Homo sapiens: one gene and its partners. The protein of the gene in region 1 interacts with the protein of each later gene in a pairwise test. Each region holds a gene or a part of one and is shown in the gene's direction. Other genes may lie near its edges.

Region 1 (4,194 bases):
GGCCAAGGCAGGCGGATCACTTGAGGACGGGAGTTCAAGACCAGCCTGGCTAACATGGTGAAACCCTGTCTCTACTAAAAATGCAAAAATTGGCTGGGTGTGATGGTGCATGCCTGTAATCCCAGCTACTGGGGAGGCTGAGGCACGAGAATCGCTTGAACACGGGAGGCAAAGGCTGTAGTGAGCTGAGATTGTGCCACTTCTCTCCAGACTGCGCGACAGAACAATTTAAAAAAAAAGAGGAAGACTGGATCCTGGACTGTGGTCTCTGGAAGGGTATAAGAAGCATTTCCACATGGACTGTGGTGAATTGACCATTGGAGACTCAGTCTGCCTTGCCCTCCCTAGCTGCTTTCTTGGTACAGCAGGCTTGACTTGGGAAATCACTCTGCTCAGAATCCAAGTTCCTCAACTGAAAAGTAGGTAAAAAGCGATCTATTTGCAGAGCTGTGTGTGACTCAAAAGCCAGGGAACACCTTGCACACTGCGAGGTTTTCATTCTGAAAGCGATTCTTGCAATCTTGCCCGCAGCGCCATTTCATGCGGCTCTCTCTCCTCTGTGCCTCAGTTTCCCTGTGTGTAAAATGTGGGAGAGTCTACTGCCTTCCGTGGAGGCTGTGAAATTATGTCTTTAAACTAATTGGTCCAGACGTGGGGCCAAAGTATCGGGATTACAGGTGAGCCACTGCACCGGGCCTCAGCCTTGTCAGGGGGCCGGAGGTTGCTTAACCCCCTGGATCCCAGCTTCCTCATCTGTAAAACGGGCTGATGCCTATACAGCTCTCAGAACCACACCTGGTTCAGAAGTCCCCAAATGGTAGTCCTCAAATTCTGGCCAAGGCCAAAGCAGGTGCTTCACTTCTTCCGTGCACACCCTGCAAGTGGGCTCCGGGTGGCAGGTGCAGCTACGCCCTCTGCCGGTCGGGGCGGGAGACAAACTCAGGGGAGTGGGGAGAACCACAGCGACTCAGGGAGCTATTTCAGAGGGGGCAAGTGGAAGGCGCTGGGGCTCCAGGAGAGTCTGTAAGCGAACAGATGAGGAAATGACCAAAGAGTTAATATGTTAGTGCAGCGCTTGGAACGCAGAGGGAAGGACCATTTGCCCTGTGGTTGGTTGGTTCCTTCCCTCTGAATTTAGGTCCATTTGGTTTGTCCCGGAGTGCTTGTCAACCCGTCAGAGGGCCTGGGAACGGAGCATCCTGGGAAAGATAGTTCCCAGACGGGCTTCCCGCGCTGCTTCCCGGCGCCTTCGGCGGCGAGAGGACTCCATTTCCCGACGTGCCCCGGGACCGGGAGGCGGAGGGCCGCCGTGGCGTCGGTCCCCGGGCCGAGCCGGGGGTGGGGGCTCGAGGCGCCTCCGCGGCCGTGGACGAGCGTCCGTGCGGCCTGGTCCGGGCCATGTCCGCGTGAGGACCCCGCCGCTGTCGCCGCTCCCGTTCCGGCCCTGGCCCCTCTGCCCGGCAGCGCCGCGCACCATGGGCTCCATTCTCAGCCGCCGCATCGCGGGGGTGGAGGACATCGACATCCAGGCGAACTCGGCCTATCGCTACCCTCCGAAGTCCGGTGAGCGCCCGGCCCCAGGCGCGGACTGCTAGGCACGCGCTGGAACGCGGACCCGGCGGGCGCGGGGGCGGGGACTCGGGGCGGGGCGCCCTGCTCGGCCCCCTCCGGGCCTCGTTGCTACCCCGAGCCTTCGCGCGGCCCCACGGCCCCGATCCCTAGGCGTGGCTGGGGGCCCCGGAGGAACCTGCCCGAGCCGTACCTGGCGCTGCTACTGCCCGGCTTGGGTGACCTTGGGGCAGTCCCTTCGCCCCGGGCACCTCAGCTCCGTCCTTGCAACAGGGGGGAGCTCCTGGGGGAAACCCCGAGGGCGGGGCGGGGTGCTGAGCGCGGGTCCCGGCGCATCGCTTCTGCCTAGAAAACTCTCATTGTCATCAGATTGACCTCACCGCGGGGGCCGGCTTTCGCTTTCTTTAGTGGCTTGGTGTGAAGGCCGAGCCAGTGGTTTGGGCAATTTCCCTCCCATCAGGACGGAGGCTCTTGGTGTGTGGGTTGGAGGAGTGGGGCTGGGCCCAAGGAGACGATTATAGTTGATCGGGAGGGGCCAGGGTCCTTGCTGAGAGGACCCAGCCGATACTCGGGCCTCTGTGTTATGGCTGAGGGACGTAAGACACCAAGGAGGAAGTGACTGCCAAGATCTCAGCTGGATGGAAGCATAGTTGGGACCGGGACCAGCTGTGGGGCTCCCACGTAGCTTTGTTCCCAGCTCTCTTTCTGCCTCTATTGATGAGTTATGTGTTGACTGGGAGCATCTAGCTCCAAGTCTCACCCTCCATCTCCTCGTGGGGTTCTTTGTGGTGGAAAGGAGAGAAGGAAGAGGAGAGAGAACTTGGGCATCATGGGGACATCTAGATTGGGTCCTCAGATCCTGGCGTCTCATCTGATCTGATGTCTCAGTCTCCTGGGTGTCTCCGGACACCCACAGGCCAGATTTCTCTGAGTGTGGGCCAGGTCCACAAGTGGGGGAGGACTGCTAGACATGCCAGGGCCTGCCTGGGACCCCTTGGGGCCTGGGAACCTGCATTTTCAACCCATTCCCCATGTGAGTTTTACGTCCACTCAGGTTTGAAAAACTGCTCTGCCCAGGTTTTGTAAGGTGTGACTAGGTGAGGGCCTGGGGCCACTGGGATGAAGTGAGGGGAACCAGCACAGTTTGGGGGCACTCTGAAGGGGATGGACTCAGAGCTAGGCAGAACGCACTGTTGCCTGCCTGCTGGGGAGAGCACAGCTGTATCCCAGGCCCAGCAGCGGGTCAGCCTGGCCTTTGGGTGGTTCCACCCTGGGGTTTCCCTAGAGGTTCCGAGGGCTGATGGCCCTACATCAGATGGAGCAGTTTGCTGTTGTCCTCTTTCATCTCTGATATTCTTCCAGCCTGCCTCTGGCTGAGTGACCTTGGTCGAGGTTGCTTAACCCCCTGGGTCCCAGTTTCCTCATCTGTAAAACGGGCTGATGCTTATACAGCCCTCAGAACCACACCTGGCTCAGAAGTCCCCAAATGGTAGCTGCTACAATTGCTCATAAAGGAAGATAAGTGACTAGCTAATGACCATAATCATAGTAAGCAGTGGCATGACACAGATATCAAAAAGTTGAGTGGCACTTCCTGTCACCTGGGACCTGAGCTCACTTGATGTCCGTTCTTCACTTGGGCTGAACAGAATAACATACATGTCATTTACAGCCCGCTTCGGGATCCCACTGTGGCTGAAATGTCATTGCTAATCACTCGTGGCCCTCCCTCCCACTGAGCATCCATCGCAGAACACTCGCGTCAGCCACTATTGGTTGGCACTGGCACCCAGGTGCAACCCATCAGCTAGCTGCCTGGGTCATGTTGCCAGTGCCAGCAGTGTTCTGCGCCCATCCAGTCCACAGGTCCTCTCCAGCTGTGCTTTTTCCCTTTCTCTTCTCCATCCTTCCCTGGGGCCTTGCAGATACTTGTTCTTCTCTTTGTTCATCTCTTCTGGTCCTTGCCTTTGTGCCGCACTGGTTTCCTAGACTCCCCGCCTCTCCTGTCTCCTTAATGAGAACTCCGTCAGGTCAAGGGTGGGAGGCAGGCCGGGCCTCAGCAGCATTTTGGTGTGTTTCCCCAAGGGCAGACCGGGGACCGTGGAGACATTTGAGATGATTTTAGGGGTTGCCCCCATGGACCATTCAATCACCCGATGAGAAAGCTTTCTTTTCACATCTCTGTCAATTTTGTTGATTATGTCAAGGAGAAAGAGTCACTGGGTGGTAATATATGCATTTTTAACACCTAACACTGTCCATTTTTCTTAAGGGAACTTTCAGCATGTTCTGCAGCAGCGCTCAGCTTGAATTTAATATTTGCTTTGTTTTCACTATATCTGTTTTACTCTTCATAGCTTTATTGAGATGTAGTTCATGTACCACACAACTCATCCATTGTAAACATGATTTGATGATTTTTAGTTAAATTATAGAATTGTGCAGTCGTCTGGCCAGGCGCGGTGGCTCACGCCTATAATCCCATCACTTTGGGAGGCCAAGGCGGGCGGATCACAAGGTCAGGAGATGGAGACCATCCTGGCTAACACGGGGAAACCCCGTCTCTACTAAAAATACAAAAAAATTTAGCCGGGCGTGATGGCAGGCGTCTATAGTCCCAGCTAC
Region 2 (3,647 bases), on another chromosome or scaffold:
TTTGGAGATAGGGTCTCACTCTGTTGCCCAAATGGGATGTGGTGGCACAATCATAGCTCACTGCAGCCTTAAACTCCTGGGCTCAAGTGATCCTCCCGCCTCAGCCTCCTGAGTAGGCGGGCTGCAGGCATGCACTACCACACCCGGCTAACTTTTTTTTTTTAAATAAAGGTGGGGTCTTGCTATGTTGCCTAGGCTGGTGTCAAGCTCCTGGGCTCAAGCGATCTTCCACCGTGCCCTCCCAAAGTGCTGGGATTACAGTCTTCAAGTACATCTTAGTAATGTACTGTGAAATTAAAATTTATTTAAGATTTCAGTTATTATTAAGATGAGCTTCGTGCATGTTATATTGTCGAAACAAAGGTACTTTATGGTAAACTTATAAAGTATAGTCTCTAAGATCCTGTTACAAGAGACTAAAAGCACCCACGGTAGAAGAGACGGGGGTTTTGAAGCCGTGTGGCTGTGTGACATTTCACCTTCATTTGTTCACTGCCTGAATGTGAATGTAATTTTGGCTGGGTTCTATAAACCCCAGGCTTGGAATGATTCAGATTTTGGAGAATTTGCTGTCCTCAAATCCCAAGTAATTTTCTTCTCTCCCTTAGGCACTATGTCGTCCGAGGCCCAGAGATGACCCCTTATGAAGGTAAGGATTCTGTGCTTAGGAGAAGAACACCAGGCGGTTTTTATATTCTCAGTCAGCCTTGCCTGTTCAACATCTTTTATTTGCAAACAGCAGCCTTTCTACTTTGGATGTGTGCTAGTTAAATTGGCTTAGTTGGAACTCCTCCTCGTCTGCTTCTCCACACGCTGGAAGTGTTTGCTCTGCTGATGTGTCTCAGCCTGCAGGGCCGCCTGTAGCGTCTGTGTTCACCAGCCTCTGACACCATAGGGCCATAGCTGAGAAAACCAGACCGGGGTAAACACTGAAGCTGGCCTGTTCTACTATTTCTTAAGACCCAGTGCATATCATCAAAGGAAAGGCACATATATTCAGTTATTCAGTGTGCCTTCTGTGCTGGGCGCCCCCAGGGTTTCGCAATCCCCAGGACGGTCTCTGAGCTAAGTGGAAGTACCCCTGTGTGGTGGCACCTGGGGCTTCGGTAGGCTGCAGGACCTGTCCAGCACCTCAGCCCTTCATCGACTACCAAGGCTGATCCAGCAGCCTGACCCCTCCAGGTCAGCAGACACCACCTAGAGACCTAGTGTCATTTATAGAGAAGATGCTGGAGCTGTCAGTAAGTTTCTGGGGCCTTTGGCGGAGGCTGGCGCCAGCCTCGATCTGGACCAGGTCAGTAGTCAGTGTGCCCGTGAATACTGTCCCGCCGGCAAGCACAAGGCAGAGCAGGGCCAGGTCAGCAGTTGCTGTCCAGCCACAGGGCCCCGGCTTCAGGTGGCTGGAGCAGCAGGCTCTGTTTGCCTGTGTGTGGAGGCTTTGGATGAGATTTCACTAGAAGAGAGTGCTGCTGCTAGAAGAAGGTTTGCAACCCCTGCTTTGGACTGTCGGGAGGGTTGTGGGTGGGTAAGAATGAAAAAGGCTCTCCTGAAGGCATTTTGGCCGAGTTAACACAGCCACACCTGTGGACTCTCCTTTGGCCCAGGAATCCCAGTTCTGGATCATCTGCAACTAGGGCAGCCAGAGTGCGGGAGTACATCTGTAGGGTGGGCCCTCCATCATCGTGTCATTGCCCATGACCAGCGTTGGGGATGCCAGCAGGCCGTGGTGAGATAAGGCCCGGGAGCAGGTGTCCAGGGCGTGTTAAAGTACTTGTTACGATGCGTGTGTGTGCCTTCAGCTGATCTGAAGAATATATACCACCGAGTGAGTAGTGGTCGGCCGGGCGCGGTGGCTCACGCCTGTAATTCCAGCACTTTGGGAGGCTGAGGTGGGCGGATCATCTGAGGTCAGGAGTTCGAGACCAGCCTGACCAACACGGAGAAACCCCATCTCTACTAAAAATACAAAATTAGCCGGGTGTGGTAGTGCATGCCTATAATCCCAGCTACTCGGGAGGCTGAGGCAGGAGAATCACTTGAACCCGGGAGGCGGAGGTTGCAGTGAGCCGAGGTCGTGCCGTTGTATTCCAGCCTGGGTGACAAGAGTGAAACTCGTCAGGAGATCCAGACCATCCTTGCTAATACGGTGAAACCTTGTCTCTACTAAAAAAATACAAAAAATTAGCTGGGCGTGGTGGTGGGGCCCTGTAGTCCCAGCTACTCAGGAGGCTGAGGCAGGAGAATCGCTTGAACCCAGGAGGCGGAGCTTGCAGTGAGCCGAGATCGCTGCACTCCACCCTGGGTGACAAGATCAAAACTCCATCTCAAAAAAAAAAAAAAAAACCAAAATGGGTGGTGGTCTTTGACAAGCAAAATTATGCCAGCTTTACATTTTTTTTGTTTGTTTTGTGGTTTTAGTTTTTTAAAAATAAATAGTGAATATTAATTCTGTATCCACACCCAGTCTCCCTCAACTTCACCAGCTAGGTCAGTTGCTGGTGGAGATGAGCTGCTCCCCCAACAGGGCTGGACACAGTTGGGAGAAGAGGGGGCAGCCCCTGGGTGTGGTGCGGCCGTTGCCAGCCCCAACCCTGTCACTTGTGCTTTTATCTTGGTCCCCTCCCATCGCTTCCGTTGTTCCCCACAACCGTGTGTGGCTCTGTGCTGGTCCTGGGTCTCAGGAAAGCCTCCCTTCAGAGAGAGAATGTGTGTTCCTACTGCCCCTCCCATTTCCCTCTATGGCACTGCTGCTCCCGTCCCCGCGGACCTCCCCCTCACTGGGGGATGCCTTTTGCTCTCTGCAGCCCTGCCCTCTGCTCTCCTTCAGGGTCTCCAGGGAACCCCTCCGAATTGCCACTTGCCGAGGGGCTGTTCTCAGTCCTCAGTTTCTTAGCCTCTGGTATCTGATGCTGCTGACGACAGCTTCCTTCCTGACTTCGGGATTTCTGACCCCTTTTCCTGCCTGTGCATTAGCTGCGTCCCCTCCGTGCACTGGGTTCCGTGGCTGTTCTGCCCCTGGTGCTGCCCAGGCGTGCCCACTCTGACAGTTCAGAGCTGGCTTCCTACAAATGTTGCTAAATCATTCCCCTTGAGTGAATCTGTAGATTTCACACAGTCCTAACAAAATCTCAGTTTTTTATACTACACAAGCTACATGCAAAGGCAAAGGACCTAGAACAGTTAAAACCATTTTTCTAAAGAATGAAGTGGAGTCTGTGGTTTCAAGACTTACCCCAGTGATGAGGGTCAGGCAGTGGTAGAGGAGGGACAGGCCATGGGGCAGAGTAGCCAGCTAGGCCTTTGCCTCAGGCTTTTCAGCAGATGGCCTGGGGTGTGGGGATGTTCAAGCTGCCAGGGACCCACTTCAGGACAAGTGGGTGCTTCCTGATTTTCATCTGGTGCTGTGAACGTCTGTGTGTGTGTGGCTCTTGGTGCCTTTGTCTTGGGTTTCTCTGGCGGGTGACAAGCAGTGGGATAGCCGTCTGGGGCTTCCCGATAGGTGTGCGCGCAGTGAGGCAGCAGGGCGCCCGTCTCCCATCCCGACAGGTGTGCGCACGCAGTGAGGCAGCAGGGTGTCCATCTCCCAGCACCCTCTGCGCTCAACTGGCTGTTTCCTGCCGTGTAAGTCACTCTTGCCCATTAGCACC
Region 3 (3,647 bases), on another chromosome or scaffold:
GTAGAGACGGGGTTTCACCATGTTGGCCAGGCTGGTCTTGAACTCCACCTCAAGCTCCCAAAGTGCTGGGATTACAGGAGTGAGCCACCGTTCCTGGCCGTAAAGACTCTTTTAAACATGGATGACTGTTTTGATAAAATGACATGGCTTGTTCATGTCGATACCATTTGCTTAGAAGGGAAAGATCAAGGGAAAAATGGGGTTGGATTTCAAATGATTTGGTTTGATCGATGATTTGTTATTCTCTAAAGTTGTAACTCTGGAAAAGGTAATGAGTTTGACTTATTCTTTAACTTTTCCTCTTTAGACAGTTCAAATATTTGAATTCTACATGCTAGGACTTGTTTTCTTTATACTTACCAAGAAACATCCTTATGCAGTTTCTCTAATGTTTGAGAAACTAAGTTGTTTTTTACACACGTGCATGCTAGTTCCTGAAGAGTCCTGTACAGGTGCTCTGCTGGCTTTTCCTTTCAGGTTTCTGTATCAGCTGTATTTCTCCCTGTAGAATGTGCCCCTGACCTCCACCCCTTAACCTTACCCCATTTGTCTTTATATGCCTGACCATCCGTCAAGGCTCTTCTGGGTCATATTTAGTTCATGCTGTTATTTCCCCTTCCTCCCTTCTTTAGTCCTTACTATTTTTGCTTTGGTCATGTTTTCTTATGCTGTATTCTGTAAGCCTTTAAATTTTTCTTTTTATGGTGGCAGGGGAGAATATTTTATAATTATGCTTTGTGCTTTTTATCTTCCACTCAATAAATGCTTCATAAATATTTGAGTATATAGCGCTATTCTAGCTGTATTGTATTTGAACAAAAATCTTAACTGCCTTGTAAGTTAACTGCTAAGAATTTGTCAAAAGTGCAGAGATAACATCAATAACTTGTCATGGATAGTACAAAAAGGTCTCTAAGGGCTTGATGGAAGTCTGTAAATTGACTTCATATGAGAGTGTAAGAAGTGAAAAAGACCAAAACAGAGTAGATGTTTTACTCTGTAGGCCAAGGGAATTGAGCTAATTCTTTTCCTGTTTTATAAATTTGTCCTGATCTTAAATAATGAAGGGAAAAGAGTGCTCTTTTTCAACCTCGAGTCCTTTTTATTCTTTTCTGTGAAGCCATGATATGAAAGATTGCCTGTTATACAAACTTAAGTATAGTTTTTCCATCTTCAGTAAACTAACCTGATTGCCGTCTAATTAGTTGTTACAATCACACCGAAATGCAAAGCAGCTTGTTTTAAGCAGCCTTATTGGGAGCTAGTATATGGCTTTAGTCGTTTTGAAGTATTTAACATAACTTGGCAACTCCATTACTCCTTTTATGGACTTTTTGGCATCTGGGCATTCTTGGTAGGAAATCACTGTTTTAGAATGAAAAATCTCCCCCAGGAAGTAAATTAGCTAGTAAACAAATGAAACTTCATTTTTTATATTACTTGTAGAGCATAAATGATTACCCTTTCTGCGTATAAGTGGCTGTTTGCTAGGCTGCTTTTAGTGGGACTTTGTTTTTGATTGGTTAATTAAATTTCTATTCATTATTGCCAAAAAGTGCCTACCCCCAACAGCAAGATACTAAATTTTAAAAATGTTGGAGCTGTGAATCTAGGAGGAAGTGAGAAGTTTAGCTTTTATTTAGTAGTTAGGAGCTTAAGTAAGTCACTTCTTTTACTGTGTTTCTGTGTACTATAGATAATATTTTTTTGCACTGCAAGAGAGCATATAGAGGAAAGCTCTTTGGCAATGATATTATGTTCTACAAATATAAAAGCGATGGTGTCATTTGTGGCTGAATAACACTTTATTTTGAAAATGCTTTATAACAGGTTTTTGTGGGAAATAAAGCAATGCTGTTAACTTCATCTTGCATTTTTCTAGTCTTTACTATGATTAAAAAGTAGTCCAGTCAAAGTTGTACAAAGGAAATAAACCTGGACTAAGGAGCCTAAGACTTTTCTCTTTGGTTTGCCCTCCTGGGACAGATTACCTTTCCAAATTGAATTCATGGAAGAGCATTTGGAAATATCAGAACTGTCATGTTAAGCACCTAAGTGGTACTTTCATTCCAGAAGAATCATTGTTTTCGTTTATCTGACCAATTTATAATATAGGGTCAAATTCCTGGTGGTTATTTATGCTCCCTCATCCCCATTTTTATACCTGTCCTTGAAAGGAACAGATATATGAAGAGAAGACTTAGGTTTCCCTTTTGTGAATAGTATATCCCTTAGTATCTTGATTTTTTTTTTTTAATTTGGTTAAACATATTTAGACCTGGAAAAGGGTAGTATTTGATAAATGTCAGCTAGTTGAGGGGTGGGGAATTGAGTTGAATGGAGATAGTCACTGCCAAATGTCAAGCATGACTGGAGAGCCAGAGTGATAAAGCAGGGGTCCCTTTTTCCAGATCCTTTGTAACAGTGTTATGTGATCTCTTCTAGAAGATTCTGAAAGATAATCCCAACTTGGAACCTAGGAAACCACCCAGTGGGTTTCTGCAGCTTAGGTGGTTCAGATCCTCATCAGCACCTTTTTCTGTGCCTCAGTTTGCTTACAATGATGTTCTCAGTAGCTGTAATTTGCTGCTTGTGTTTGAATACTTAAGCATTTTCTTTTTATCATGGGTATATGAACATTTTTATTTCAACAAGTGTTAGAATTTTTACTCTGCTTTTGTGGGCTCTAGGTTAGCTACTTGGTTGTTTATTTGTAAAATGATTAGCAGGGAACCATGTGTATGCATTTTAAGTATCTTTTGTTGTCAGAGCAGTTAGAATTTTATTAAGGTACTATATGCTAATTCTGTCAATTTACTTCGTTCTCCACCCCACATTTATTGAACAGCAAACTATGAAAGTAATGTGTCCCATAACTGGCCTTCAGAAGAATTACAACTGCTGTTATCTCTGAACCTTCCAGAAGTTTGTGCATCAGTTTTAAAAAAATGATGAAATCCCTGAAGATAGCTGTGTCCTACATTTGGAAAGATACAAAAACTGACCATTCTGGTCAACCAGTTTTGGTTGCTGGTGCTTGAGATAGAGCCACACAATGGTCTCAGTGGATTTATGGAGAAAAATAGATACAGAAAGTTACTTCTAAATAAGACAAAAAAATCTTTTTCTTGAGCAGTGACAGGTAAAGAGGTTGGTTTGGTTAATCTTGAGTTGTGTTTCCCTCCATTAAGACAGTTTTATGGTGGGGATGGTAGTGGTGATGAACTTGTTTGAAATTTGTCCACTTACAGTAATGTTTATGGTAGCTTCACAGACAACTTCATTCTCACAGGCCTTAGAATTACTATAAAACTAATAGAATGGATGAGGAACAAAGGACCTGAGTAATTAGATGCTTAGATAATTGTTCTGTGTTTTCATAACTGTGGTGAAAAAGAGTGGTGCTAGAAGCACTTAAACATTCTATGTACGGGAAAACTGCCTGAATTTGTATTGGGATTTTTGAGCACCATTCACTGTTTAAAAACTGATATACCATAGGTCATATTTATTTTAAAGAGAAATAGTAGGCAAACTTATCTTTTCAAGATAGATATAAAGCTTAGTTAACCTTATCAAAATTACAAAACTTAAAGCATGTGAAAGATTGAAAATATTAATACATAGGTTTAAATATTGGTCATTAT

What was found.
Region 2: the proteins of MGRN1 (region 1) and UBE2J2 interact in a two-hybrid assay, tested with the Homo sapiens proteins (one large-scale study listed by BioGRID).
Region 3: the proteins of MGRN1 (region 1) and UBE2Q2 interact in a two-hybrid assay, tested with the Homo sapiens proteins (one large-scale study listed by IntAct).

Annotation. Positions count from the first base shown.
Region 1 is NC_000016.10:4,623,486-4,627,679, forward strand, and holds the start of MGRN1 (E3 ubiquitin-protein ligase MGRN1), read left to right. Parts: upstream 1-1,340; 5' UTR 1,341-1,475; coding exon 1,476-1,563; intron 1,564-4,194. UniProt on the Homo sapiens protein: E3 ubiquitin-protein ligase. Mediates monoubiquitination at multiple sites of TSG101 in the presence of UBE2D1, but not of UBE2G1, nor UBE2H. Plays a role in the regulation of endosome-to-lysosome trafficking.
Region 2 is NC_000001.11:1,260,348-1,263,994, reverse strand, and holds part of UBE2J2 (ubiquitin-conjugating enzyme E2 J2), read left to right. Parts: intron 1-608; coding exon 609-649; intron 650-1,604; exon of another isoform or gene 1,605-1,710; coding exon of another isoform or gene 1,711-1,726; intron 1,727-3,647. UniProt on the Homo sapiens protein: Catalyzes the covalent attachment of ubiquitin to other proteins. Seems to function in the selective degradation of misfolded membrane proteins from the endoplasmic reticulum (ERAD).
Region 3 is NC_000015.10:75,846,419-75,850,065, forward strand, and holds part of UBE2Q2 (ubiquitin-conjugating enzyme E2 Q2), read left to right. Parts: intron 1-3,647.